Linked DNA regions of Homo sapiens: regions 1, 3, 4, 5, 6 and 7 are each reported to be linked to region 2. The links are microRNA targets in miRTarBase. Many come from high-throughput screens and were not tested one by one. Region 2 holds a microRNA gene; each other region holds the end of a gene's coding sequence.

Region 1 (4,000 bases), not on the chromosome of region 2:
TGCATGAGCCCCGAGAACAGGCTATCGTTTTGAAATTTATTCTCCAGGAAGGGGAACTCTTTCAAATTCCCACAAAGACGCCTTATTGCTAAGGCCAGCCTGTAACATAAACAGCTGGGCTGTCCCCTGACCCCGGCCTGTTGCAGGAGGGCTGGCCGCGCTGATGTACACGGACACGGTACAGACCTTCGTCATTCTGGGGGGCGCCTGCATCCTCATGGGTTACGGTAGGGGCTCGCCTACCAGGGAGGGGCGCGGAGGGCATGGTCGCGGAGCTCTCGGCCTGCGCGCGGGGCCGTTGCGCGTCTCCGGTCTGAGGGTCCTAAGGAGGGTCCCCTGACGGCCTTGCCCGGCAGCCTTCCACGAGGTGGGCGGGTATTCGGGTCTCTTCGACAAATACCTGGGAGCAGCGACTTCGCTGACGGTGTCCGAGGATCCAGCCGTGGGAAACATCTCCAGCTTCTGCTATCGACCCCGGCCCGACTCCTACCACCTGCTCCGGCACCCCGTGACCGGGGATCTGCCGTGGCCCGCGCTGCTCCTCGGACTCACAATCGTCTCGGGCTGGTACTGGTGCAGCGACCAGGTGCGGGTATAGGGCTGCGCCTGCAGTGAGGCCGGGGCGGAGCCGAGACGGGCGGAGCCTGAGTCCCTCCCCGCCTTCCCCACAACGGTCTAAGGCGCAGTCTGAGGGGCGGGAACCCCTCGGGTTGGTGCTAAACCAGACAGAAGGCTCCATCTACTCCAAGCGTGCAGCTGAACTTGGGGCACTCACGAGCCAGAGGCGGGGCACAGAGCGGAACGGGGCGCGGGGCGGGGCCGAGGGGAGGCCCGCAAGCGGGCAGCTGAACGCCCCTCCCGTAGGTCATCGTGCAGCGCTGCCTGGCCGGGAAGAGCCTGACCCACATCAAGGCGGGCTGCATCCTGTGTGGGTACCTGAAGCTGACGCCCATGTTTCTCATGGTCATGCCAGGCATGATCAGCCGCATTCTGTACCCAGGTAACATCCCTGCCCCGCCCCTTTCCTGTGCCAGCAACCGGGCGCCCGTCGCCCAGTTCCGTCACCCTCCTAAGACTCGGCAGTTTGGGCCCGGAGTCCCGCCTCCCTCCGGGGGTCGCACGCCTCCTCTGCTAGGATTCCCAGTCCCCACCTCCTGGGATTCCCAGACCAGGCCCCGTCCTAACGGCGCGGTGGCCTCTCTCTGGCAGACGAGGTGGCGTGCGTGGTGCCTGAGGTGTGCAGGCGCGTGTGCGGCACGGAGGTGGGCTGCTCCAACATCGCCTACCCGCGGCTCGTCGTGAAGCTCATGCCCAACGGTAAGGGCAGCCCCGGGCCACAGGCGCAAGCTCGCTGCGGAGCCCGCTGCTGGGAGGGGTCGTCCCTCGCGCAGCTGCAGCCGCCCTGGACCCCCAGTGGCCCCAGCCTCACGGCTGCCGTCGGCCCGCAGGTCTGCGCGGACTCATGCTGGCGGTCATGCTGGCCGCGCTCATGTCCTCGCTGGCCTCCATCTTCAACAGCAGCAGCACGCTCTTCACCATGGACATCTACACGCGCCTGCGGCCACGCGCCGGCGACCGCGAGCTGCTGCTGGTGGGACGGTGCGGCCTGGGCTCCCCTCCTCCCCAACGGATCAGCCCGGGGCGGGGGCTTGCGCACCTGCAGGGGAGCCCAGGGTCCGGGTTCGATCCGACGGCCTCCGCCGCAGGCTCTGGGTGGTGTTCATCGTGGTAGTGTCGGTGGCCTGGCTTCCCGTGGTGCAGGCGGCACAGGGCGGGCAGCTCTTCGATTACATCCAGGCAGTCTCTAGCTACCTGGCACCGCCCGTGTCCGCCGTCTTCGTGCTGGCGCTCTTCGTGCCGCGCGTTAATGAGCAGGTGAGCGGCACGCGCGTGGTGACGGCAGGGCTGGGCTTGCACATCCTCAGCAGGCTGACCTGTTTCCTTCGCAGGGCGCCTTCTGGGGACTCATCGGGGGCCTGCTGATGGGCCTGGCACGCCTGATTCCCGAGTTCTCCTTCGGCTCGGGCAGCTGTGTGCAGCCCTCGGCGTGCCCAGCTTTCCTCTGCGGCGTGCACTACCTCTACTTCGCCATTGTGCTGTTCTTCTGCTCTGGCCTCCTCACCCTCACGGTCTCCCTGTGCACCGCGCCCATCCCCAGAAAGCACGTGAGTGGCCAGGTGCCCCAGGCAAGCACTGTGGGACACAGCACCTACCCTCTGCTTCCTGGAGTGCCCAGCTGGGAGGACCTGAATTTCTCGACTGAGGGTTGGGAATGGGCTGGGGGTCCAGCTGCAGTTGCAATTGCCGAGCAAGAATTTTTATTTAAATACATTTATTTGAACCGGCCTGGGGGAGGCTTGATGTTGATGGGTTGGTGATTAAAGCCTCCCAAAGCCAATCCTTGGCATGGCCTTTGGGACTCAAAACACAGGATCTGACTGGTGGGCACAATACCATCTTGAACGCCCACAAAAAGGTTTGGTTTTGTTGCCAAAGGGCAGGTGGCTCCAGGCAGGGCTGATGGTGGCAGGGTGGGGTGAGGACAGGACAAGAGATCTGGGTGTGGAAGGATGGCCGGGTTTCTGCAGCAGCAGGAGGAAAGGGTGGGAGCACACAGGCACAGAACACTGTGAGCAGGACTGCCAGGCCAGTGTCACAAGCGCTACCATCTGGGTGTAGACAGACCTGAGCTGACAAAGCTGGGGGAGCAAGGCCAACGGCTTTAAACACAAGCTCAGGGGCTTGGGGTTTATCCCGAGGGCACAGGGCAGCCATGTAGGGTGGAGTTGGCATGAGTTAAGCCTGGGCTGGGTGTGTAGACTGGACAGAGGTGGGTAGGGCAGGCAGTGACGAGCTGGTGTGCAAGAGACTTTAGGGCCAGGCATGGGGGGACAGAACTCCCACCTCGTTCGTGCTCCCACCCTCCCCAGCTCCACCGCCTGGTCTTCAGTCTCCGGCATAGCAAGGAGGAACGGGAGGACCTGGATGCTGATGAGCAGCAAGGCTCCTCACTCCCTGTACAGAATGGGTGCCCAGAGAGTGCCATGGAGATGAATGGTAGGGCACCATGCTGGGAGGTGGGGCTGGAGGAGCTGAGTTCCCGCAAACTAACTGCAGGGCCTCAATTTCCCTCAGAGCCCCAGGCCCCGGCACCAAGCCTCTTCCGCCAGTGCCTGCTCTGGTTTTGTGGAATGAGCAGAGGTGGGGTGGGCAGTCCTCCGCCCCTTACCCAGGAGGAGGCAGCGGCAGCAGCCAGGCGGCTGGAGGACATCAGCGAGGACCCGAGCTGGGCCCGTGTGGTCAACCTCAATGCCCTGCTCATGATGGCAGTGGCCGTGTTCCTCTGGGGCTTCTATGCCTAAGACCAACTGCGTTGGACACCATAAGCCACAGCCTCACAGGAAGTGGGGGTGAGGAGCCTGCGGTGCTCCCCAGAAAAGGGGAAGGGGCAGTGGGGTGAGAAGGTCCTGGCTCCCCTTCTCCCGGCCTTCCTCTGCCTGGGGCCCACTGCATCTGATTGGCAGTCACTTCCCATGAGGGCCTGGCCCACCCGCTGCAGTTGCCCTAAGGAAAAATAAAGCTGCCTTTCCCCTGTCCTGCTGTGGCCAAAGTGTCCTTGCTCCAGGTTCCTGCCCTGGGCTTGGGCCTCCGTCTGGGCTGCTCACAAGACCTTCTTTTCGGGAGACAGAAGCCATGTGGCCCTCCACTCATCCACCTCTAGCTGGTGCTTCTCGGTCTTCCAGCCGGCATCCTGCAGTCCTGGGGAGAGATCATGGGGTGCTGCCGGGAATGCTGGGGACAAGGGTAAGGAGAGGCACAGGCTGGGTGCAGGCTTTGTGCACTACTGGGGCTCCCACTGCCTCTGCTGGGTGAGTATGGCATAAAATGAGGCTGAAACCACACCTGGCTGCAGCAAGAATTCGTTGAAATGGCACACAGAAGAGCGCTGGGATGGAACAGGCGCCAGACAAAACGTCCTCATCAGCCAATGTGAGGGCCT
Region 2 (4,085 bases):
CAAGGACCTGGGATCTCCTGGACGGGGAGAGGGCTGGCCCAGGTGGGGCGCGGGTCGGGGTGGGGGTAGAGCGTTCAGAGGACAGGGCCCTCTGCAGACCCTCTGAGTGGCAGGAAAAACAGCTGCAGCAGCGCTGCGAGGGGAGGGGCGGACAGCAGCCGGAGCTGACACAGCTGCGGGGGCCCCGCCTCCCTCCCCCAGGTGTGCCCGGAGAGGCTGAGCAGCCTGCGCCTGAGCTGGTGGAGGTGGAAGTGGGCAGCACAGCCCTTCTGAAGTGCGGCCTCTCCCAGTCCCAAGGCAACCTCAGCCATGTCGACTGGTTTTCTGTGAGTGCTTGGGCTCCTGCAAGAGCAGCCCGGGGAGGGAGACTCTGCCCCTCTTGTAGCCCAGGACCCTTCTCCTCCTCTGTGTCTCCTCCCATTAGGTCCACAAGGAGAAGCGGACGCTCATCTTCCGTGTGCGCCAGGGCCAGGGCCAGAGCGAACCTGGGGAGTACGAGCAGCGGCTCAGCCTCCAGGACAGAGGGGCTACTCTGGCCCTGACTCAAGTCACCCCCCAAGACGAGCGCATCTTCTTGTGCCAGGGCAAGCGCCCTCGGTCCCAGGAGTACCGCATCCAGCTCCGCGTCTACAGTGCGTGACCCTGTGTCTGCCAGCAGGGTAGTGAGGGTGGTGGGACGTGGCCAGATGTCCCCCTCATTTCTATTTTCTTGTAGAAGCTCCGGAGGAGCCAAACATCCAGGTCAACCCCCTGGGCATCCCTGTGAACAGTAAGGAGCCTGAGGAGGTGAGATGTGTGGCAGGTGGGCTGGGCAGCTGGTGCGCAGCCGCTGAGATGGGGCTTGAAGGGGGCTCGGAGGCAGGGAGACTCACACCCTGTGCTCTTTAGGTCGCTACCTGTGTAGGGAGGAACGGGTACCCCATTCCTCAAGTCATCTGGTACAAGAATGGCCGGCCTCTGAAGGAGGAGAAGAACCGTGAGTAGCCCTTTCTCCCAAAAGCCACCCTTGGGCCAGGTGTGGTAGCTCACACCTGTAATCTCGGTGCTTTGGGAGGCCAAGGCAGGAGGATCTCTGGAGGTGAGGAGTTCAGGACCACCTTGGACAACATAGGGTGACCCTGTCTCTACAGAAAATAAAAAAATTAGCCAGGCATGGTGGTGTGTGCCTGTGGTCCCAGATACTTGGGAGGCTGAGGCAGGAGGATCATATGAGCCCAGGAAATGAAGGCTGCAGTGAGCTAGGATTGCACCACCACACTCCGGCCTGGGTGACAGAGCGAGACCCCATCTCTTAAAAAGAGCTGTCCCTATGGTACTACACAGGAACTGCCTTATATTTTCATTAAGCTTTTAACTTAAAAAAATTATACAAATGGTACTTGAAAATATTTTCATGAGAATTTAAACTGACAAAAAATCTAGAAGTTTCTTCTTGCCTGAGACCCCCCCTCCCAGAAATAATCTCTGCTATCAGGGTGTGTTCTTTCAAGCCTATTTCTATGTATTTGCTCATATATAGAAATATTTCTAGAATGATATAGGCTTCTGTGTTTTATTATCTAAATCAGTCATTCTTAACCAGGGGTGATTTTGTACCCCCTCCTCCTAGGAGATACTTGGCAATGTCTGGAGATATTTTTGGTTGTCACACATAGAGGGGGTGCTACTGCCATCTAGTAGGTAGAGAGACCAAGGATGTTGCTAACATCCTATAGGGCACAGGACAGCCCCCACAATAAAGAATCAACGTGGCCTAAAACATCAGTAGTGCTGGCTGGGCTCACGCCTGTAATCCCAGCACTTTTGGAGGCCAAGGTGGGCGGATCACCTGAGGTCGGGAGTTCAAGACCAGCCTGTCCAACACGGAGAAACCCCATCTCTACTGAAAATACAAAAGTAGCCGGGCGTGGTGGCGCATGTCTGTAATCCCAGCTACTCAGGAGGCTGAGGCAGGAGAATCACTTGAAGCCGGGAGGGAGGTGGAGGTTGCGGTGAGCCGAGATTGTACCACTGCACTCCAGCCTGGGCAACAAGAGTGAAACTCTGTCTGAAAAAAAAAAAAAAAAAATTATCAGTAGTGCTGAGAAACCCTGGTCTAAGTGGTGGTGTATGGTATACATTGTTAGACAATTTCTTTTATACAATGTTTCTGGGTCAGTCTATTTAGATCAACTGATCGTTTTGCTTACTGCCAAGTTTTCCATACTACGCATAGCAGGTAGTCGAGTTCACCATTCCCCATTTAGTGGACATCTAGACGGCTGCTCGTTTTTATCATTGCAGCATTCTTTGCACACATCCTTGGATATGAGCAGACATGAAAATGTTTTTCTAGGGTTGACACTGAGCAGTAAAAGTGCTGGGTTGAAGGGTTTCCAGCTTGCATTTGTACCTGGCCTTCTACAGGGGACAGGGGGCTATTTAGATGGTCCCCTGCCAACCCCAGTGGACAACCCTAGGGTGGGGCTGGAGGTGGGGCTGAGGCTGAGTCTTCCTCCCCTTCCTCCCTGCCCAGGGGTCCACATTCAGTCGTCCCAGACTGTGGAGTCGAGTGGTTTGTACACCTTGCAGAGTATTCTGAAGGCACAGCTGGTTAAAGAAGACAAAGATGCCCAGTTTTACTGTGAGCTCAACTACCGGCTGCCCAGTGGGAACCACATGAAGGAGTCCAGGGAAGTCACCGTCCCTGTTTTCTGTGAGTACTAACCTGACTCTCTGCTTACTGGGGCTGGGGCTGCTGGAAACTCCTGCTGGCTCCCCCTTATCCAGCCCAGGGTTGACTCATGGGCCAAGAGCTACCCCCTTTGCCTATGCAGACCCGACAGAAAAAGTGTGGCTGGAAGTGGAGCCCGTGGGAATGCTGAAGGAAGGGGACCGCGTGGAAATCAGGTGTTTGGCTGATGGCAACCCTCCACCACACTTCAGCATCAGCAAGCAGGTGTGGGGGCTTTGTGCTGGGTGCAGGTGGGGATGCAAGCAGAGACCCAGGTGGAGTGGCGGGAGGTGCACTCTGCTCACCTCCCCAATCCTCCCTAGAACCCCAGCACCAGGGAGGCAGAGGAAGAGACAACCAACGACAACGGGGTCCTGGTGCTGGAGCCTGCCCGGAAGGAACACAGTGGGCGCTATGAATGTCAGGGCCTGGACTTGGACACCATGATATCGCTGCTGAGTGAACCACAGGAACTACTGGTGAACTGTGAGGGGCTGGGGACCCAGGACAGGGGGACCAGGCTGGGGCAATAGGGAACTGGCCCCACCCTGCCCTGGGTGACATGATTGCTGTACCCCCAGATGTGTCTGACGTCCGAGTGAGTCCCGCAGCCCCTGAGAGACAGGAAGGCAGCAGCCTCACCCTGACCTGTGAGGCAGAGAGTAGCCAGGACCTCGAGTTCCAGTGGCTGAGAGAAGAGGTACCCAGGCGGGTCTGGGGCAAGGGGCTGATGGGGTGGGTGGGGCTGGCGGTGACAAGAATGTGCTCTTTCCCAGACCCTCTGACCCATCTCTCATCCCAGACAGGCCAGGTGCTGGAAAGGGGGCCTGTGCTTCAGTTGCATGACCTGAAACGGGAGGCAGGAGGCGGCTATCGCTGCGTGGCGTCTGTGCCCAGCATACCCGGCCTGAACCGCACACAGCTGGTCAACGTGGCCATTTTTGGTGAGGCCCTCCCTCTGGGTAGAGACCAGGTCACCCCAAGTGGGGTGGTTTTTAAGCTCTTTGACAAAAAGCCACCTGCTGCCCTGGGGAGCTCTGGTGCGGAGGGGGAGGCAGGCTAGCTGGGCTTGCCACCTCACCTCTCCCTACCTCCCCAAGGCCCCCCTTGGATGGCATTCAAGGAGAGGAAGGTGTGGGTGAAAGAGAATATGGTGTTGAATCTGTCTTGTGAAGCGTCAGGGCACCCCCGGCCCACCATCTCCTGGAACGTCAACGGCACGGTGAGCGGGTGTCTCATCTGCCACACTCTCCTAATCCCTGCCTGCGCTTTGTGGCCAGGACCAGAGATCCTCCCCATCCCCTGAGCTGCCTCCTTCCTTTCCTCGCAGGCAAGTGAACAAGACCAAGATCCACAGCGAGTCCTGAGCACC
Region 3 (4,009 bases), not on the chromosome of region 2:
CTGACGCCGGAGATAATGGCTCCCATCCTCGCCAACGCGGATGTCCAGGAGCGCCTGCTTCCCTACTTGCCATCTGGGGAGTCGCTGCCGCAGACCGCGGATGAGATCCAGAATACCCTGACCTCGCCCCAGTTCCAGCAGGTAGAGGCCGGGCCCAGGGTGTCCTCCACTGTGTGCTCAGGGAGTGGGCAGGGGGGAGGAGGAGGCCCTGCCCCACCTTCACCATGGCCAGTGCTTCATGTGCCTGACCCGCAGAGCTGGCAGCTGAGCAGTGTGGCTCTGGGGTGCAGCCCGGGTTGGAGCTCAGCCCTCGCCTGGCTCTTCTTGCAGGCCCTGGGCATGTTCAGCGCAGCCTTGGCCTCGGGGCAGCTGGGCCCCCTCATGTGCCAGTTCGGTCTGCCTGCAGAGGCTGTGGAGGCCGCCAACAAGGGCGGTAAGTGGCTGCGCCTGCACCTCCAGGCCAGAGCCAGGGGCAGGGTCCATTCCTGTCCCCCTGGATCTGCAGAAGTGGGGCTGAGGGGGTAAAGGTCACAGCCCTTCTGCCCTTGATCCCATCGCTTTGATCCCCAGTTCTGGGCAAGGGTTAGACACCACCTTGTGTCTTTAACGTGTTCTAGATGTGGAAGCGTTTGCCAAAGCCATGCAGAACAACGCCAAGCCCGAGCAGAAAGAGGGCGACACGAAGGACAAGAAGGACGAAGAGGAGGACATGAGCCTGGACTGAGCCACGCGCCGTCCTCCGAGGAACTGGGCGCTTGCAGTGCGTTGCACACCCTCACCTCCCACCCACTGATTATTAATAAAGTCTTTTCTTTTACCTGCCAATGCTTAGTTTCTTTGCCCAAAGGGAGTTTCGGCTGGACAGGTGCTAGCGTGGGGAGCTGCTGTAGGGTCCCAGAGACAGTTAGTTATTTGACCTAACAACGGAAAACGGTCACCCCAGGAAGAGTTTGGTGCCTCTGTCCAGGCCGGTTCCAGATCTGTCTTGAGACTCACTCTCTCCGTATTTAAGTCAACATTCATTCGGTTACACAGAAGTTACTTTTTAATTTTTAAGGAGGAACCAGTGATGATTGGTGACAAATCTCTCACAATTAAAAATGGGTGGAAGGGCCAAATATAAAAACATTTTGCAGTATTTTATTCTTTCGTTTAAGAAGCTATAACTTAAACCATCTTCAGAAACAAGATCTGTCACCCGTAGAGCTTAGAGTCCAAATAGACACCTATGAGGCGAGCACAAGGGGCGGTGTGAGGCAGCTGCAGGGGCCTGACCAGGGGCCGGGGTTGGCTGTGTCCTAGGCGGCTGGGCAGCCACTGGCCCCCACTGCCCCGTGGACCTCCACAGAGCGAGTCATGGCGACGGGGGACCGGTTCACCGCCAGCCTCCTCATGCAGCCGCAGTAGGCGGGGGGCCAGGGCTGCACGGCCATGGGCTCTGGGGGCACAGGGAAGATGGAAGAAGGCTGGTTGGTGGGCAGCTAGAGACCCACAGGCCCTTCCCAAACGTCAGTGCCCCACCCAGCCCCTGTCTCATTCCACATCATAGGAGGGTGGTAGGGGGGTGGGAGGAGGGTGGGAGGGGGCAGGGGGTGGAGGGGTGGGGGGAGGGTGGTAGGTTACGCAGCACCTAGTCCTGAGGGGCAGCTCCCCCACCCTTGATCAAGGCCGCACTCACCAGGCAGGCCCCCGAGGTACAGAGGGGCTGGGGCACCAGCTGCAGCCGCCAGCAAGGGGCCCACGGTGTGGTTGCTCTGCGCGTCCACCTCCAGCCGGAGCACATTCCCGCTTTTCATCACTGGGAGAAAGGGGGACTCCTGAGGCCAGGTGGTCCTCAGCCCAGCCTCTCTCCAGCCCCAAAAGAAGCCACCCCACCCAGAGTCCCGCCTGGCTCCCGCTCTGCAGAAGGGTGGGGGTGGCAGAGTGCCCTGGCCACAGGAGGGGCCTCACCCGCTAGCCGGTGCCACTGGCCATCACACAGCACTGAGGGGCGGGTCACTGACGTGGAGAACTCCCCTGCTCCGTCATCCGCCCGCAGCAGGACCTGGCGGGGTAGGAAGGGAGGGTCAGGCTATGCCCCCGAGGTCACCAGAATGGGGAGGCAAACCCTGCCCTGGCACGCCACCTCTGCCAGGCTTACTTGCTTCTCGGTCACCTGCAACTGCAAGTAGGGGGGCGTCCGGGCCTGGCCCAAGTGGAAGATCAGTCCGGTGACTGCCAGGGGCCGCACCTCCAGTTCCAGGCCCACATCAGGCAGTGTAGCTCCTGGGAGGTCTGCGGGGAGGGGTTGTGATGGAGAAGAAAGGGGGGGCCCCTCCCCAGAACCTCCTGGAGCCCCCTGCCCTGCCCTGCTGAGGCCTGGGATGCCAGCACCCACAGACCTAAAGTGATAACTCCCCCGCTGCCTGGGAAGAACAGGCCCGCCTCCAGGGGGCCCAAGATGCAGGGTGTGACCCCTGCCATCCGTGTGGGGGCCCCCAGGGGCCTCCCGTGCAGCCTCAGTCTCTTCACACAGCCGCTGAACCCGACGGTCACCTATAGGAGCAGACCGGGCAGGGATCAGGGCCCAGGGCAGCTGAAAGGGAACAGTGGGTGGGGAGTGGGGGCTGGGGCAAGATGGTTCTCACCGGAAGTTTGGAGCTGTGGCTGCTGGCCGGGAGGCCGCCCACAAAGAGGGTGTGGGGCTGGGGGTGCTCTGCCCCCTGGTGCTGCCGGTGCGGCCCCTCCTGGCTCCAGGCCCGGGCCCCGTCCGTCACCAGCAGGATCCGGTTCTTCTCCCAGCGCACGGAGACCTGGGGGCAGGAGATGGGTCAGGGTAGGGCTGCCAGGCCCTGCCCACCACCTTCCTTCTTCTCGGCCCTCACCTTGTGCCAGCGGCCAGGCCGGGAGCGCTGGCGGCTCTGGGCGCGGAGCCGAGTCCCGAGGCCTTCCATCTGTGCAACGAAGTGGCCATTGCTCAGGAAGAGCGCCAGGGAGGGGCTGCCGGGCCTCAGACGGGCAGTGAAGAGGAGGAGGCCTCGGGAGCTTCGCGGGAGGACGTGCATGGAGAGACTGGGCCTGGAAGCGGAGCTGGCGTCAGCCTGCGCGGCCCCTCTCAGCCCACCCCAGCCGGGCCTGGCCTTACCAGTTCCTATGTCGGGCCAGGATGCCCACAAACTCCAGGTGACTGGACAGGGAACCCCCAAACTGGTAGGAGTCTCGGGTGGTCCTGAGGTGTGGGGGCAGCATGCAGGCAGGATGCCGGGCGGGCTGACGGCTGCGGCGGGAGGCCTGGGGGCGTGGATGGTGAATGCAGGGGCCGCCCACACAGGGGCCACCCTTCCAGCCACCCCAGCTCTGCCTGCTCACCCCTGGGGTGCCCACCTTCCGGGCGGTGGCCTGCAGTCCTCTAGGCCCCAGGCCCGGGGTCTGGGCTTGCAGGGCGGGTGCACAGCCCGTGCTCACATTGACGCTGCCCAGGTTCTGCTGCAGATCAAATACGCGCTGTGGGCCCAGGAGCCTGTGCAGGGCGGGCAGGCGGTCAGCAGCTGCGGAAGGCCAGCTGGGACCTTGTCCCCCAGCGCCCACCAGGCTCACCGCTGCACGAAGACGTTGCTGATGCAGCCACTGAAGTTGTAAATGGTGCCAGACTCAGGCAGGCCTCCCAGGAGGAGCCTCGGGGGCCCCTCAGGCTGCGGCTGGAGCTCGGGGGGTGGTCCCCGGTGGGGCTTCATCTGCTGGAGCTGGTCATCGACATACAGCCAGACTCTGGGGGGCGGGAGGCCGGAGGCTCGGTTTTTCCCCACCCTGCCCACCCCCACCTCAGAGGAGACAGAGGTCCAGGCAAGTGCAGGCGGGCGTCCCTCCAGACCTTCACGATGAGGGCCCAGCGGCCAGGCTCACCCCGTGGCATTGCTGTAGAAGGCGACGTAATGGGGGGCACCATCGGCGAAGCCCGCTTGAGTTTTCACTTCAGTCCTCAGGAGCTGTAGGCTCACACGGCCCTGCTGCAGGGACACCTGGCATAGCC
Region 4 (4,069 bases), not on the chromosome of region 2:
AGCTGAGATCGCACCATTGCACTTCAGCCTGGGCAACAAGAGCGAAACTCCGTCTCGGGAAAAAAAAAAAAAAAAAAAAAAGACAGGCTATCACTATGGTGCCCAGGCTGTTCTCAAACTGGGCTCAAGTGATCTTCCTGCCACTTCCTCCTAAATGGTGCTGGGATAGGCATGAGCACCATGCCTGGCCTACATTTTTTTTTTTTTTTGAGATGGAGTTCTCCCTCTGTCACCCAGGCTAGAGTGCAGTGGCACGATCTCATTTCATTGCAACCTCCACCTCCCGGTTTCAAGCGATTCTCCTGCCTCAGATTACAAGCACCCGCCACCATGCCCAGCTAATTTTTTTGTATTTTTTAGTAGAGACGGGTTTTACCATGTTGGTCAGGCTGGTCTTGAACTCCTGACCTCAGGTAATCCACCCGCCTCAGCCTCCCAAAGTGCTGGGATTACAAGTGTGAGCCACCATGCCCGGCCTACATTCTTATATATACTTTTGAAGACTGACTTTGAGGTAGATCACGCCCGGTATTTTTCAGCACCTAGTTCACTTACACTCTCAAGCCTTTCACAGTGGTTAAGATTCCAAACCTTCCTTGTCTTGTAGGAACGACTGAGACGGCTAAACCACAGTGTTGCCAAGGAAACAGCCCGCAGGAGAGCAATGCTGGATTCGGGAATTTACCCCCCTGGCTCCCCAGGCAAATAACAGATGAGCCTATGGACTCAGTAGCACAAGTACTGTTCCCCAGCTGCCTTGTTTCAACAGACATGCAAAGATCCTAGGAGACAGTCCCCATAGACCTTCAGACATTAAAAAGGGAGCCGTACAGTTTGTTTGAAGCACTTCGTCTTACCCATTTATGTAGGGGCCCCAGGAAACCTACACACAGCCAGAATGAGGTTCCCAAAGGACTTACATTAATTATGGCTCTTGCTTCCTTTCACAAATGAGCTGAGGCCTCTACTTTTTTTTTTAAGCTGCATACGTGAGGCTTACCTTCTTCAGGACTAGTTAACCAGAGGGGCTTCCTTTGTATGTTACATGCCTGGTTACATGGGCCTGGACAGCATGTCCTCTACCTGTGACTTCTCATTTTCCTGTTTACACTGGGGATTTGGAGGGGGCAGGCAAAGTCAAAGTGAATGACCTCTGTCCACCCACTTTTTTATTGCACTGGCTTGAATACAGTAGCAGTGTTGATAGAATCATTTTATTCAATAAATACTTAAAATGATATTCTAGTTTACTCTGGTATATGGAAAGGTTCCAGGAGTTTGTCCTTTAATTCAAAGACAGCTTCAAATTGTGATCTGAGTATTTATAATTAAATGACTCAATTATCATTTTCAACAAAAGAGTACACAAAGCCAAAAGCAAAAAAGGTTGCCACATGCAAAAAAACAAACAAACAAAAAACACCAACCAGAAAGACCAAGAGCCCTACTAGGAAGTACTTTAATAGTTTTTCTTAGAAAAAAAAATTTCCAGACACTTAACATTTCACAACATTTCAACAGCAAAGTATTAGTTGAGAGAGGGGTTTTCAGGAGTTGGAGATTATAGAATATTAGGAAGAAATGTTGGTATCCTCCATTATAGATGGATGGCATAGGTCACAAATGGGAGACTGGCAGCTAAGCCAATATCAAAACCCAGTGGAATGACACTTCTATGGAGTTTACTTTTCTTCCTGCTATCTTCCCTATCCCACGGAAATGTCTGTCACCATGTAAAGCCCAGTAGCAGGCAGCTTAGGCTCCAGTCTTCCCCCTTGGGTAGGAAAAGGAGTGAAGGGAATGTCACTCCTGAGTTTCCATGCTTTCTTCTTCCTCTCCTTGAGGTGGTTCTTCTGTATTCTCCTCTTCTTCCTCTCCTTCCTTCTTCTCTGGTGGCTTCTCATAAGCCTTTTCTGAAGGTGTTACTATCACTCCATCCCAGGTAGATATTTCAGAAGCAAGATCTAGGAAAGAGAAAAAGGTGATTTAGACGAGTAGCCCAGCATAAAAGTCATTACTTACACTGTGGAAATATTAAAGACATTTAAGTAGTGTACAGCTTCTCTGTACCAGATTACAATACAAAACCCCTGACCCACAGTGGTCACTCACAGCTGGCATCACCCTCCTGGCCAAGGATCTTCCTAAAGCCACCATGTGAGAGGATTCGGACGAGAGTCTGAGCTGTATAGCAGACCATGTCCTGAAGGAAAGCAAAGTGAGAGTAAGCAAGGAAAATCAAAGGACCTTATTTGAGTAATACCCTTCTGAAAACAGAGATTAAGACAGCTTTTTAAATCTCAGGACCAAAGTCTTTCAGAATCCCCAAATTCCTGACCCGTAAAGACCATATTCCGCTTTGCCTGCTGAGCAGCAGTATTCAAAAGAGTGGGGCAAAACAACTCAGTTCATATCTGTCCCAATACCTGCTGTTCTAGGGTCATGACTGTGTGTACTCTAAAGTTGCCACTCTCACAGGGGTCAGTGATACCCACTGAACCTGGCAGGAACAGTCCTGCAGCCAGAATCTGCAAGCAGCGCCTAGAACACAGGGAGGTATGAGGTATTAAAGGAATGCACAAAATAGTTTACAACCAACCCTAAACCCAAAGCATGCTGTACCTGTATGCAACGTTTAGGGCCAAAGGCTGTCTGGTGGGGTTGTTCATCACAGCATAATGGCCCTGAAAAATAATAAATCCAGTAGGTGTGCCATCAAAATGGCACTTCTGATAACTAGAACTTTATTTTTTAGAGACAGGGCCTCACTTTGTCATCCAGGCTGGAGTGCAGTGGCGCAATCATAGTTCACTGTAACCGCGAACTCCTGGGCTCAAGCAACCCTCCTGACTCAGCCTCCTGAGAAGCTAGGACTATAAGTTCAAGCCACTACAACTGGCTAATTTTTTTTTTTTTCTCTTGTAGAGACAGAGTCTCGCTATTTTGCCCAGGCTGGTCTCAAACTCCTGGCTTCAAGTGATCCTCTGGCCTCAGCCTCCCAAAGTGCTGGGATTACAGGCATCAAACTAAAACCTTAAATGATCACGAGGAAAACTGGTCATTAAGGTCTAAGTCTAGCCAAAATTTTCATGTTCAGAAGCAATTCTGAAATGGCTGCTCACTCATTTCTCTCTACTACCATGATTAAATGGTAGCAGTCATGAGAAGAAAACGGGACACTATAACTCAGTAACTACTCATTTCATTGAATATACAAAAAAAAAAAAAAACTTTGAATTTTTTCTTTTTTTTTAAACAAATGTCTCTGAGTCATGTAAATGTTGAATTTTTATTGGATTACTTGTCTACCAATAAAATTTCTTTTAAGCTTCACCAAATTTCAGACTCTGGTGAATTTCAGAGTTACTACTACTACTACTACTACTACTACTACTACTACTACTAGTAAATAAGGATGATGAGGAACTCCAATTGCCCATCTTTACTTACTAGTAGGTCAAGGATCCAGGGTGTGAGGGGCTCAAAGCCAGGAAAACGAATCCTCAAGTCCTTCAGTAGTCTGATGAGAACTTTAACTCTGAAAGTAATAGTGACCCAAACATTAAAATCAATACGATCATGTATTTCCATGCCTAAGGTAGAATTGAAGCTGACTATGCTATTTCCAGAACTATACATTCTCTGCTTTCTCTAAATCTTAATTTGCTTCCTTAAGGTAAAAATAAAAATCCAGACACGAGGTCACAGGCAAAATAGTTCTGTCAGAGGAAGTATGGGGGTATCCTGCTATTCACTGCAGTTAAAAAGTTTATCTTAATCCAAATGGTTAGAGAGGGACTCACGTGGACTGAGAAGCATTTTCCTCGAACCAGCGGGCATGTCGGATGGCTGCTAAGGCACTCTGCAATACTTTGATATCCACTAAAAAGACAAGCATGATATGCCAGGATGAAACATTTTCATTAAACAAGCTACTCATTACCACTGCTACAGTCTTAAAAACTTGGAAGGAGGGCAGGATAGACGGAGTCTCGCTCTGTTGTCCAGGCTGGATTGCGTACAGTGGCGTGATCTCAGCTCACTGCAACCTCCGCCTCCCGGGTTCGAG
Region 5 (4,084 bases), not on the chromosome of region 2:
CCCACTTCCTACAAGACCTGGAGGCAAGACTCTAACCCTCCCATCTCCCACCTTGGTTTCTCAGGTCCTGGGGGTGACCCCCATAACAATGGGAGGTCTGGACGCCTGGAAGAGTAGTTTGTAACACAAACCCAGACATGTTTCTGTCTGTAGTGGGAACATCCAAGTCTAGTCTGGCTTCCTGTAAGAGATTAAGGGGGTGGGGGGTGAAAAGTAACGGCAGGGGCTAAGCTGTAAAATGGGCCCGGAGCTAGGGATTTGCAGACATGGGCAGAGGTTGCTGACTCTGGTAAGGAAAGTGCTTTTGGACTGCCAGGATTGAAGGAAGTCCTAGATTGGTCACTTTGCCCTCTCTGGAAAAGTTGTTCCAAGATAATTTCCTTCAGAGGAAGGGATACAAGCAGAGAAGTGGAATCAGACAGACAGAATGAAAGCTGAGTGTGGGGGTGGCCAGAAGCCCTGGGGCACTGAGGCAGGATAAGGGCGGTGGGCAGAGGGAGACTGTTTCCCTAAGTCAGCATTCTCTGGCCCCCCAGAGGCTGGGCACAGCTCTCCTCTTGTGATGTATACAGATTAACTCATCTTCCATCCAAATAAATCTCTCAGCACACTGCACAGTTCCTTCTGCATCCCAGATTACCCTTCCCATGTCAGGACTTGCCCCCCTTCCCCTACCGCTCACCCTATTCCAATTAGCTGGGTGTAGATGGAGATTTCACTTCACACTTCTTCCTCCTCCACACCTTGGCCTCCTGGCCTAGACATGGCTCCCTGACCGCAGAAACTCCAGTAGCCACCAGGCCTTTTGCAGGGGCATCTAATTATGCAAGATCTACAGAGGGGCAGGGCAGACCCAAAGCCTCGTACAAAGATCAAGGTTTCTGTGCATTTTCTGCCCTTCTCAACTCCTTCCCTACTGTATACTCAGTCTCCACCCCTATTCCTCTATCACTGAACTCAATTTGAACCTAAATGACCAAATTTTCAGCAGATTTGATCTTTGAGGGAGAATAAAGCCCAGCTTGTCAGACCCTTTACCCTGGAATCAGTGATGAGAATTCTGCCCATCCGTACTCCCTATTTTCCACTGGGCAAGTAGGAATGCCCACTTGAAGAGGGCAGCAGTTCCCATGACCCTTTCCTGGACAATGATCTTTTTAAGTTGGAAAAAGGAAGAAGAGGAGACCATACTGATTGCTGGCCCCAACTCCCATACCAAGACTTCCATTAGTGCTGAAGGAGAGGGGAAAGTGTCCCACTTGGCCTCATTTTAGGACCCAGAGTGTAAATGGATACAGTGTGTTTGTGTGTGAGTATGTCTATTTTCTTTGGTATGTCTAACCTTCCCTGCAGAGCCATCACAGAGGACAGCTCAGGCTTGGCACAGGAAGCTCCACATGTGTCCTATCTACCTGAGCCCTATCTGCTGGTATAGATATTAGTAGTCACTCTGATTTGCAATCCCCCATTTGGTCCCCACCAGCTCTTCTGAGAATGGCAAATCAGTAAAGTCTGGCCTTTCTGTCTCCCAAGATGGGGGATATAGAGGGTTCTCTCTCTGGGGAAACAGTTTCCTACTGAGCAGACGGAGGGTTCAGTCTCAGTTCCCTATCCACTCTACTCCCTCAAAAATTGGAAGTTATATACTTCCACACTTTGAAATTACTTGAACCGCAGTCCAGCTTTTGTTCCTACATCCCAAGGCTGGTCTGGATGCCAGCACCATGGACAGCAACCAAGACCCCCTTTGGGAGAGGGGAGGGGACAAGGTTTCCTGGGCAAGGATGTGTGTGGGCCTTTGCAAGGGAAGCATTTTCTCCAAAACATCCCCAGGGAGGAAGGAGGCAAAGCAGAACCTTCCCTGATAGAAGGATCAATAATAAGAAAGGCCTCCAGATCTGACTTTAGCCGTGAATGAAGGAATTATTTAATTGCTGTTGAATGGTTTACTTAAAAACAGCATCATTCATATAATACACAACCCCAAGGTCACAGAAGAAAGTGCCCAGGCTTCAGGCTGACCCACATTGTAAACAGTCCTTCCCAAATCTTTTCTCTATAAACAACAGTCCTCTATGCTGCTGCCTCCAAACATAATGCCATCCATTAATACCACTGGCTGGGCACACCGGGATCAAACCTGTGACCCTAAACTGCCATGGAAATAGCTTAAACTGGGGTTGGAGACTCATAACACTGAGTGGGGGGATTCCCTCCATCTCACTCCAAATGAGTCCAAATTCACTTCACACTGCTTTTCTGGGTGAGCACAGTACTTGAGAAGGACTGATAGAACCCAGATGATCTCCAGAACAAGGCAGATGGCTCCAGCCTTCCCCAGCCCACAGGCCCAAATATTTAGAGTCAGAGGAGTTCTCATTCTTAACAAATAACCACCATGCTTCACATTTGCAATGTCTATTTCCCCTCATATTTCCATACCTATTATGTCACTCAACACAAAATTCCATGATTCTGTGCAACTCCAGATGAAAAACACATTTTAGAATTTGTTACACCAGCTACTATTTGAAATAAATGGACCATCAACTATTCTAGAAATCTCTTTATGTCATTGCTGATTTTCTCTGCAACGGCATCCAACCTGTCCCTCATTTATCCTTATTCCAACCCTATGAAGTAGACAGGAAAACCAGAGCTAAGAGATTTTTTTCTATATCACACAACTCATAGGTGGCAGGTCCAGGTCTACCCTTTAGATACCTCGGAGTGCTGCCACCTAGCAGCCAACATGAATTATTCACCAGCAAGTGGGAGTCACACCTACAACTCAGAACCCACTGCTGCATTTGGGATTTGCAACCTGTGCAGAGAAACCTCCCCACATCTCCCAACCCTCCAGAAAAGCCCCAGATGAGAAAGGAGTCTCCACGTGCATATAAATGATTCTTTATGCCCTTCCCCCATGCAATGGGGGATGGAGCAGGGGGAACTCCCCGCCCTCATGCAGGGAACGGGAGGTCAATGTATACTAGTCTTATTGCCAGATGCCCTGTGGCCATGGGGTGGGGAATAGGGGTCTACAGCCCCTTTCTTCTGGCATTGGTCCCCCTTCACCAAGTCACCGTGGTGGAGCTGGGGGGCTGGAGGCCCTAGGAGCTGAGGTAAAGACGGTTCTCTCCAGGGAAGGAAAGCTGCTCTCCCCGCCTGCCCACCGGCCGTCTCTGGATGAGTGGGAGGAGCTGCCAGCGGGTACTGAAATGTCATCCAGGTGTCTCTACCCAGTGGGCAGTGAGGCCAGACAATGTCTCCAGCTTGAGGCTACCCACACAGATCCTCGGTGACGGGGGCAGCATGCCCCAAACACCTTGTCCAGCTGGTACCTCCAGCAGCCATGAGAGTTCTTCTCTGACTGATGCATTGACTCAAGATCCCTGCTCCTGGAGTCCAGTTCAGACTGTAGTGACCCTCATGACAACCTCTCGGCCAGAATGGGAGCTGGAACGGGCATCTGGTGGCCGCAGCTGCCCAAGGAGGTGCAAGATTGTATAACCGCAGCGCTGAGGCAAGAGCGTCCGCATGCGCTGGGCAGCTGGGGGGCGGCTCGTGGCCCCAGAGGTGGGGCCCGTCCGTGAGTTCCTGGGGCCTGACTTCCCTGCCGTCCCTCCCCCTGCATCTCCTCCTATGTCCTTGGTCTTGTCATAATTTAGGACCTTCCACTGCTGGTTCACTGCCTGCCAGCGCTTGAAGATGCGGTAGACAGAGGAGCCTTCATGGATGATGAGGCCTGAGCAATAGGAATAAGAAATCCAGGGTTAACTGTGGCCTAGATCTAGGCCAGAGGTACTTAAGCAAGCATTTCTTCAGAGTGAGAAGATACAGTTGCAAAGGGCCCTGGAGAAGCAGGGAAGTGGGTTGAGGGGGCACCAGGATAGCACTAAAGGCTACAGTGGCAGAAAATAAAGCCAGGAAACTGAGGGGATGGGCAGGGGAGTTAGGTGTGTAAGAGGAAGATACAGAGCAGGTAAAGGAGAGAGAGGTGCCCTCACCTATGCAGACGACATCCATGAAGCCATACATGCCGTAGCAGATCTGAAAGAGCAGATCCTGTCGTTGCCACTTG
Region 6 (4,085 bases), not on the chromosome of region 2:
TCCCCCCTTGTGTCCCTCTACCCTGCTTTGGAGTGCCGGGCCCTCATTCAGCAGATGTCCCCCTCTGCCTTTGGTAAGCCTCCTTTGTCTGGGGGGATGGAGGCTGCTAGGAGCTGGGAGAGACTGGAAGAAGTGGCAAGTCCTGAGAGGGGCTTTCTGGAGCCTCTGGCCATCTCCCCAAGAAAAGAAGGGAGAGGCACTGGAGGGGATTTTTCAGATCCAAGGAATTTGCCCCAGAAGGGTCTGGGGTCTAAGTGGGGTTTCACAGGCCTAGCAGATCCTTCTGTTTTGAGAAAGGAGTGAGAAGGGCCCTATGGGATTTCTCCAGAGCCCCAGATGTCGGCACAGGGTGAGGAGAAGGCAGGCTGAGAGCGCTCCATCATCCTTTTCCTCTTCCTCTCGCCCAGCAGGTCTGAATGACTGGGATGATGATGAGATCCTAGCTTCGGTGCTGGCAGTGTCCCAACAGGAATACCTAGACAGTATGAAGAAAAACAAAGTGCACAGAGACCCGCCCCCAGACAAGAGTTGATGGAGACCCAGGGATTGGACACCATCTCCCAACCCCAGTACTCCTGCTCTCCGGTGCCACCTCACCTTCTTTGGCTTCTTCCCTCTTGCCTCCTTCTGTTCTTTCTGCTCTCCCCTCTTTTCCCTCCTCCTCACTTCCCTCTGGCTAGCCCACCCCTGCACTCTCTCTCATTGCCGCTGCCACTATCACCTGTCTCTCTGCCAGCTGATGTGCCCTGTTGCCCCCCACCCCATCCCGCACAGAACCATCCCTGCATTCCACAGGGGACTCGGGCAAGGGTGCCGAAGATAGACAAGAGGCACACAGAGACAGACCAACTGGCAGCCAGGCAGCCCCAGAGGAGAGAGACATTCAGACAGAGGAAAGTCTCCCTGCCCCTCATTCCTTCCAAGATGAGAAAAACTTGCCGCCACCCCCCGACACTGATGCCAGGGAGGTGGGAGGAAGAAGTGGGAAATTTCCCTTCCCAGTACCCCCAAGAACGTCTGAGCCTTCAATGTTGAATTTTTTCTTTATTAAAATTACTTTTATCTTATAAAATCAACTAATCAAAAATGATATAGACGACAGCACTGGCTCTGTGAAGGTGGCATCTTTCTGGGCAGGCAGGCCATGGGGCATGGAGGAGGGTGCAAAGATATGGGTTGCTGTCTTCTGGCCTCCAGCTGCATGGAGGCCGGCCCAGGGTCTAGGGTGTGCACTGGGCAAGGGCAGGGCGGCAGGTGTCAGGCCGGCTTGGACAATGAAACCCTGACCTTGCTGCATTCCTTTTGCTTCCACCACCACTAGCTTCTTTGGAATCTTGGGGTGGGGGTCATCTTTGGGGATTATGGCTGCCACCCGGGATTTGAGTGTAGGGAGTGTGGGAGCAGCCTTGGCAGATGGGGCACCCGTGCCCTGCAGGTGTTGACAAGATCCGCCATCTGTAATGTCCTTGGCACAATAAAACCAAATGTCAGTTTCCCTGAGCGACTCTGTTCTGTGTGGGGCAGGGGTTGGGCGGGCCTCTGGGCAGAGGATGCAATGGCACGGACCTTGGCTTGACCTCAGAGGTGTGAATGCTCTCCAGCAGGGTCTGTCTGGGGGCCTGGAGTTTGTATTTGATTTGCTGCTTATTAAACCTCCTTCTGGACCTATTGCCACTGGAAAAGCTGCGTCTTTGCCTGCTGACCCCACCCCTGCCTACCCTATTTCCTGGGGGGGGGGGGGTGATGGTAGCAGAGGACTGTGAGCTTGAACTTCCTGCCTGAATTCCAGCTTCTCCGCCTGCCTCTCACCATGAATGCTGCTCTTTCCTTATCATGATCTGATGAAGAAAAGCCTTGGAAAAGTGCAACTGATACTTTGTAGCAACATGAGTTTAGTGGAAGTAACCAGAGGGGCCTCACCCACTAGGTTTTAGAAGGTGAAGGACGGCTAAACCCTTTTTTGTTCTTGTCCCCCAGTCTGACACCTCTTTGCCTGTCCTCCCTAGGGGTAAATCCAAGGTAAAGAAGGCTGGCTGGCCCCCAGGTTTTCTCAAGCAGCTTTTTCACCATGCCATGATAATGGAGACCCTCTGACAGGATGTGTGTCTGGTTCTGCAGTTGAGGGCATGGCTAGCTGAGTGGCTGTCTGCGGAGTGTGTCTGGAACCCAGTGGCCAAGCATCTATTTGTTGTAGAGTTGCTTTGAAACCTTCCTGGCCCTGGTCAATTGCTTCTCTGTTTCAAGTGTCTCATCTGTACAAGAGGTGATTAGGCTGGGTGCAGTGACTCACACCTATAATCCCAGCACTTTGGAAGGCTGAGGTGGGTGAATCACCTGAGATCAGGAGTTCGAGACCAGCCTGGCCAACATGGAGAAACCCCATCTCTACTAAAAATACAAAAATTAGCCGTTCATGGTTGTACGTGCCTGTAATCCCAGCTACTTGGGTGGCTGAGGCATGAGAATCGCTTGAACCCAGGAGGTGGAGGTTGCAGTGAGCCGAGATTGCGCCACCACACTCCAGCCTGGGTGACAGAGCGAGACTCAGTCTTAAAAAAAAAAAAAAAAAGTGATATCTACTCCCTCATGCTTCTGCTGTGATCATCTAGAGGGAATATGTATGATCAAAGTAACGTACTACCTGGGCACAGTGCTTGGCACATTGAGAGAGCACAAATGTTAGTAGTATTCTTTTTGTAGAAGTTTCTGCACCATTTGGCCCCTGCCAATCTCTCGCCGCTCTGTCCAGTGTTCTTGGCCTTTGCCTGCAATTTGCCCTCCCCTGTCCTGAGCCACCAACCTTCTTTGTCTTTCAAGACAGAGGGTCACCTGCTGAGAAGCCCATTCACATTCTCACTTCTATCTAAAAATCTCCCCAGTAGCTGTACTACAGATAAACTTCATGGCACGGGTTTGATGCCTGACTTATCTGTACATCTCTGATACCAACATCCCCATCAAGGCCTGGCAGGCTTATAGCAAACCACCCCCAATAACGTTGGGTGAACAAAGGAGAGTACATGTGTGCTTTTTTGGTGTTGTCTGTGTGTGTGTGACTGTGGTGAGTCCAAGTCTTCATGTGCAGCTCACAGAGTGTCCCCAGTTGTGTGTGTGATGAAGGGCTTGTTTCCAGGTGTGTCAGATGGTGACTGAGTGTGGGACTCTTATCTCTGACAGTTTGTGTCTAAATCCAAGATGCGTGCATGCCTGCGTGGGTCTGTCTGTGACAGTGCATCTGTGGTTTCTGTCTGATGGGGTGGATGTCCGTTTGTGTTCCTGCAACAGATTCTGGGTAGCTATTTCTGGACAGTTTGTTCCATTGATAAACTGCATGTGTCATGGTGTATGTATGTCTGTGTCTGAACAGGTCTATCCATGTCTGTTTTTGTGACACTGCCACAAAATGTGATTCTATCACATCAGTACATGTCTGCCTTCAGAGCAGTGCATGTGTGTCCCTGGAGCATCTGTGCATCTTCCTGTGACAGACTCTGCGTCTCTCATTTCTGGGACAGTACAAGTCTTGCTGTGACAGTGCATATCTGATGGTGACAGTGTGTTTGTGACAAGTTCTGCCAGTGTGACGGGACATTTCTGTGTCATCACATGGCAAATGTAGGTCTGCGTGAGTGCCTTTCTGTAACAGTGTATCTCTGGGTGTCATTCTAGGACATAACTATTTTTCTGACAGTGTGCTTGCCTGAAAGTGTATGTCAGTCTCTGGCTGCATGTGTATCTAGGTCGTTTCTGTGAATGTGTCTGACAGTATGTGTTTGTGTATATCTTGGCATTCATGTGTCTTTGGAGTGCATTTTTCTTCCTGGGGTGTGGCGCCTTTTCTGGCTGTTTTTCACAAATTTGTGTCTGAGAGTTGCCACTTCTCTAGCAGCCTCTATCATGTCTCTCAGTCCTTGCCTCTCTCAACTCCAAGAGCAGCCCCATGCCACCACCACTCTGGGCTCACCCCCATCCCCCAAGAACCACCCCCTGCTGTTCTAGATTCTAGACTTGCTGACTGGGCCCAGGGCTCAGGGTTAAAAGCTCCAATAAACACTCACCAGGCAATGCTGCCTTTGACCAATGCA
Region 7 (4,082 bases), not on the chromosome of region 2:
GGTGAACTTGAAACAATAATCACAAGTAATCACCCTAGCAATGAATCATAGATGGGAAGATTGATAACAGCAACTTCTGGTCCAGTCTGAATGAGTGGGGAGAGCCTAGGGTCCAAGGCAGCAGTGTAGGAAATGCTCCCGAGTTACCAGCCATTGGCATGTGATAGGGTCAGGCAGGGGCCAGGGGACACCGCGCTCCATAGCTCCAGGAAGAGTTTGGGTGTGAGGGTCTCCATAGGTCCTCAAACTCTCTGGAGTCCACGCTTGGGCCTCGGGTCTGGAACTGCTGGTCTGAACCACAAAGCCGCCCCCGCTCGGTTCCTTCCTTGGCTGACCTTCGGCCTCACGCCTGGCCTAACTTGCTCTCCTGGCCCATTAACCTGTGTTCCCCTTTTCTCCTCTCCCCAAGGATTTGGAAGGAGTGCCACCCTCTAAAAAGATGAAACTGGAGGCCTCTCAACAAAACTCCGAAGAGATGTAGACGATGCTTTAAAGCCTCCGATCCATGTTCCATGGAAGGTACATCAGCAATTAATTCTAGAGCAACTTTGCCCCAGCGATTCCTCTTGGGTGCGAACAGAACTACTAACGTTTCAAGTTTACCAAGTGCAAATCCAAGAAGACCCAGAACGGCGTCACTTCTCAGACACTGAAGAACTCTGCTGTGAAGCAAAACACTCAAACCTTTAAGGGACTGTCCTTGGGGAGGCAGGCGGGGCTGACAGCTCAGGAGTGTCTGCACACTGTCTCGGAAGCCAGGATTCCATTTGTGTTGCTGCTGTATTTTCCCCCCACTTCTCTATGTAACGATATAAGCTATCGGAGGGTGGTACCGATCAGGAACGCTTTTTGGCGGGGCTTTCCACTGTTCAACCGATTCCTTCCGCTTTCTTTTTTTGTGCCTTGTGCCCTTGAGGTGACCTCTGGCATGTATCCTGGTGGTTCTTACATCCCCCTCTGCAAAGTGCCCTCTTGGTTTGGTTCGGGCGGCGGCTGCCACCCTACTCACCGCTCTCCTCCCTGCCCCAGGACTTCATCGGAGCAGGCAGGGTGGAGCGAAGGAGCTCCTTAGCCCACCTGGTTTGCAGGTGCAGGGGGACCTTAGGCACGCCCCAAGCACCAGGCACCAGGGCCCAAGGACGCGCAGGTGTTGGGGCACAGTCCCCAAGGGCTCGGCCCCTTGGATCAGGCTGGGCACTCGCTGTGCTCTCCCCTCCTTGGGGCGTTTAGGACTGGGCGTCTCCAAGCCCACCATGGCCCAGATGGACGTGCAAAGCCCTTGGAATTTTCTGGCACTTCCTCTCTATTGCCCCCACCACCACCACCCCCATCACTGCTTTCTCCCAGACCTCCGAATACGAAATGGCTTCTCTGGCTGACTGCAAGGCTGTCTCCTTAAGGCACTGAGTGGGCCGGGGAGGCTGGGAGCCGGCGGCAGGATTAGCTGGTGCTGAACTTTCTCTCATAGGACGTCGCTTGGATTTCAAATCCACGGTCACCTGCTGCCCTTTGCCTCCCCCGACGCCCCAGCCTGTGCCCCGGAGAGGCAGGATCGCAGTGGTCAGAATCCACGTGCTTTCCTATTCTCAGGCTGTTCTGACTCTGAGCCAACAGCTGGACCGTGTCTCATCCCCAGAACATGCCGTCTGTCCCCACCGGGGAGTGGGCCTTGATGGCCGGGCCTCGAAGGCCACAAACAAGGCGTCGAGGAATTGGAAAGATTTGCACACCCTCCAGAAAGGAGAGACGCAATCTCCCCTCCCTCCCATCCCCCACCTTCGCTGGAACAGCTTCCTCTCACTGAACGGAGACGCCCCCTTGGACGAACTGCCTAATCGTTTGGTTCTGAGGCCTGGTTTGCTCTTAATTAATATATGAACTCCTCAGACCTTAAACCTTTTCCTAAGCTTTCTTTACTGCACTGGAGTTCTGACTCCCTTTGAGTTGTGTGTTACTGGGGGTGGGGTGGGGTCATGGGTTTTGTTGTTTTTGGGGGCTAATTGGTGCATATTCAGGTACCACCTTTGACGTGTGGCTCTTTCTCCTGACCATCATGGGAAGTGTCTGCTGGATTCCATTTTCTAAGAGTTTCTGAGGGTGAGGCTCTTATTTTTTTTTTTAAGGGATCCTGTCTATTTCCTGCACTTCGAGAAGAATCAAAATGTTCCTGAATTTCAAATACCTCATGCAAAATGTCTCCTGAAATAAGGGAAAAAAAAAAAACCACAACTTTGAAAATCTTAATGTTGAAGTTAGCAATGCCGAAAGGTTTCTGTCTTAAAAAAAAAAATCCTTGTACTTATCAATTTTGCCCCTTAGGCAGTCAGTTTTGTTGAGAACTGTGTCCTGCATCCTGGCGCAGAACCTACCTGATGCGGTTCCTCTCCACGCATCTCGAGGCGGCGTTACCTCCAGATTCCGTAGAGTTAGAGTCACATTTTTCTTTGCAGCGAAACTCCATCTTGGTGAGAGATGAATTTGGATATTTATTTCCTTCTCTGTTTTTGGGAAACGAGAGGCTACAACCAAGACAGCTGAAGGAGAATGAAACACACACATCCACAGAAACAGAGAGGCGTAGGTGGCCCTGCCGTTGACCGCAGCCTCTCTGGACAGGCAAGGGGAGTTGGCGCAGGTGAGGACTCAGACGACGTCCACCGTCCCAAGGCTGTCACTAGTATTTCTCTGAAGTGCCTGAAGGTAGGAATGGGCCGGCGATTGGGACCAGCTGGGCCCCACCACGGCCACGCCAGGCAAAGCGCCAGCAGCCCTGCACTCCACGCTGGCCAAGAAGGCCTTCCACGCAGAATGACAAGACTGCAAAAATCCGATGTGCTTCCTTCCCTGGCGCAGTCGCTCCTCGAGCCGCTGCCCCCCACCCACCCTGCACCCCTCGCCCTCCCCCCACCACAGAATCTAAGACCTTTCAGCTTCGAGCCAGGGGGCGGGGGATCCCGAGCAAAAGCCTTCCGTGGACATCAGGCCCCGTGGCCTCAAGGGCTCCCAGGGCAAACCTAATTCCCCCCAAAACGTGAAGTCGGGGAAGCTGCGGCTACACATTCCACAAAGTGCTGGCACTTACACCCACAACCCGGAAGGCTGTGGACCGATTCCTCTAGGGTGGTGACCTCCCATTAGCAAACGGTGTCATGGTTTGGAATGTTCATTATCGCCAAGAACCTGGTTAGAGGCATAAAGACCTTTTTTCACCGTTACCTAATTTTTTCCCCTTTCAAGAATTTTTTTTTTTTTTGGTGTGTTGTACAGCAGTATAATTTTTCACTTATTTATTCCATCAGTAGATATGGTTTGTACAATGTACAATTGTTTCATTTCAGAAAATAAAAATTTCAAATCATGAATACCTTGTGGTTTTGTCTCATTTTAAGTAAGGTCAGATCGATGGTGACGGTGTCCCTCTCCAGCTGCTCCGGCCTCTCTTGCTTGGCCGTGTGGCCCTGATTCTACAAGACACACAAGTTCCTTGCACACAGGAGCTGTTGCCTTCCATAGTCATAAGAGCTGCCATTATTAAGCACCAGCTGGATGCCAGGCAAGCCACTAGTTGCTCCTTTCTGTGGGCAGGTATTGTTGGCCACCTTGTGCAGGTGAGAAAACAGCAGGACAGTCCCCTGCAGGGCTCTCATGCCGGGTCAGGCCCCCAGGTTGAAAGCCACACCTGAGGCCAGGCGTGGTGGCTCATGCTTGTAATCCCAGCACTTTGGGAGGCCGAGAAGGGCGATCACCTGAGGTCAGGAGTTCGAGACCAGCCTGGGCAACATGGCGAAACCCCGTGTCTACTAAAAATAGAAAAATTAGCCAGGTGTGGTGGCACACACCTTTAATCCCAACTAGTTGGGAGGCCAAGGCAGGAGAATGGCTTGAACCTGGGAGGCAGAGGTTGCAGTGAGCTGAGATCACGCCACTGCACTCCAGCCTGGGTGCAACAGAGTGAGATTCTGTCTCAAAAAAAAAAAAGCCACACCTGATCCGCCTACCCCGAGACCTGGGTTCCAGCAGGGACATGTTTTCAGCTTCCCTGTCTCTGAGGGGACTCTGGATTGTGGTAGGGACTCAGGGGC

What was found. Region 2 holds the annotated microRNA hsa-miR-6756-5p (AGGGUGGGGCUGGAGGUGGGGCU, at 2,458-2,480, shown strand). A microRNA usually pairs through its seed, bases 2 to 8, with sites in the 3' UTR of a target mRNA and lowers its output. Matches are read on the target gene's strand: a 7mer-m8 pairs with bases 2 to 8, a 7mer-A1 pairs with bases 2 to 7 and ends in A, and an 8mer does both.
Region 1: the mRNA of RUSF1 is a reported target of hsa-miR-6756-5p. Seed matches in the 3' UTR shown: 7mer-m8 at 3,205-3,211, 7mer-m8 at 2,602-2,608 and 7mer-m8 at 2,530-2,536.
Region 3: the mRNA of ADRM1 is a reported target of hsa-miR-6756-5p. Seed matches in the 3' UTR shown: 8mer at 782-789.
Region 4: miRTarBase lists SNAPIN as a target of hsa-miR-6756-5p. Seed matches in the 3' UTR shown: 7mer-A1 at 1,158-1,164.
Region 5: the mRNA of MARCHF9 is a reported target of hsa-miR-6756-5p. Seed matches in the 3' UTR shown: 7mer-m8 at 3,025-3,031.
Region 6: the mRNA of OTUD5 is a reported target of hsa-miR-6756-5p. Seed matches in the 3' UTR shown: 7mer-m8 at 681-687 and 7mer-m8 at 756-762.
Region 7: miRTarBase lists BCL7A as a target of hsa-miR-6756-5p. Seed matches in the 3' UTR shown: 8mer at 2,875-2,882 and 7mer-m8 at 2,879-2,885.

The regions. Positions count from the first base shown.
Region 1 is chr16:31,487,174-31,491,173 of GRCh38, forward strand. RUSF1 (RUS family member 1) reads right to left here. Exons shown (of 13, transcript NM_022744.4): 13 at 2,302-3,759. The coding sequence ends at 3,662. It overlaps SLC5A2 (solute carrier family 5 member 2), which reads left to right. Exons shown (of 14, transcript NM_003041.4): 6 at 147-227; 7 at 357-586; 8 at 865-1,000; 9 at 1,210-1,317; 10 at 1,449-1,599; 11 at 1,707-1,875; 12 at 1,950-2,165; 13 at 2,931-3,057; 14 at 3,136-3,596. The coding sequence ends at 3,362. Among named protein-coding and RNA genes, the nearest start is that of SLC5A2, 6.1 kb to the left of the region's middle. RefSeq lists a silencer at 558-717 and an enhancer at 1,715-2,374.
Region 2 is chr11:119,311,380-119,315,464 of GRCh38, reverse strand. MIR6756 (microRNA 6756) reads left to right here and starts at 2,453; the gene lies at 2,453-2,515. MCAM (melanoma cell adhesion molecule) reads left to right here. Exons shown (of 16, transcript NM_006500.3): 2 at 202-326; 3 at 425-632; 4 at 716-786; 5 at 889-976; 6 at 2,516-2,695; 7 at 2,817-2,938; 8 at 3,037-3,199; 9 at 3,295-3,413; 10 at 3,516-3,657; 11 at 3,814-3,935; 12 at 4,044-4,085. RefSeq lists an enhancer at 1-344.
Region 3 is chr20:62,308,038-62,312,046 of GRCh38, forward strand. ADRM1 (ADRM1 26S proteasome ubiquitin receptor) reads left to right here. Exons shown (of 10, transcript NM_007002.4): 8 at 1-141; 9 at 331-433; 10 at 618-825. The coding sequence ends at 724. LAMA5 (laminin subunit alpha 5) reads right to left here. Exons shown (of 80, transcript NM_005560.6): 70 at 3,883-4,009; 71 at 3,577-3,747; 72 at 3,364-3,499; 73 at 3,125-3,270; 74 at 2,865-3,057; 75 at 2,628-2,792; 76 at 2,382-2,535; 77 at 2,141-2,274; 78 at 1,951-2,044; 79 at 1,679-1,798; 80 at 1,028-1,438. The coding sequence ends at 1,299. Among named protein-coding and RNA genes, the nearest start is that of ADRM1, 7.0 kb to the left of the region's middle.
Region 4 is chr1:153,660,593-153,664,661 of GRCh38, forward strand. SNAPIN (SNAP associated protein) reads left to right here. Exons shown (of 4, transcript NM_012437.6): 4 at 608-1,260. The coding sequence ends at 709. ILF2 (interleukin enhancer binding factor 2) reads right to left here. Exons shown (of 14, transcript NM_004515.4): 9 at 3,804-3,882; 10 at 3,451-3,538; 11 at 2,623-2,684; 12 at 2,427-2,541; 13 at 2,113-2,203; 14 at 1,196-1,964. The coding sequence ends at 1,804. Among named protein-coding and RNA genes, the nearest start is that of SNAPIN, 3.9 kb to the left of the region's middle.
Region 5 is chr12:57,758,227-57,762,310 of GRCh38, reverse strand. MARCHF9 (membrane associated ring-CH-type finger 9) reads right to left here. Exons shown (of 4, transcript NM_138396.6): 3 at 4,011-4,084; 4 at 1,900-3,748. The coding sequence ends at 3,414. Among named protein-coding and RNA genes, the nearest start is that of MARCHF9, 5.2 kb to the right of the region's middle. RefSeq lists enhancers at 2,802-2,851, 2,972-3,031.
Region 6 is chrX:48,919,621-48,923,705 of GRCh38, reverse strand. It overlaps OTUD5 (OTU deubiquitinase 5), which reads left to right. Exons shown (of 9, transcript NM_001136157.2): 8 at 1-73; 9 at 411-1,682. The coding sequence ends at 532. Among named protein-coding and RNA genes, the nearest start is that of PIM2, 2.6 kb to the right of the region's middle. RefSeq lists enhancers at 1-203, 1,748-2,632, 3,326-3,385.
Region 7 is chr12:122,058,683-122,062,764 of GRCh38, forward strand. BCL7A (BAF chromatin remodeling complex subunit BCL7A) reads left to right here. Exons shown (of 6, transcript NM_001024808.3): 6 at 410-3,362. The coding sequence ends at 481. Among named protein-coding and RNA genes, the nearest start is that of LINC02985, 2.6 kb to the right of the region's middle.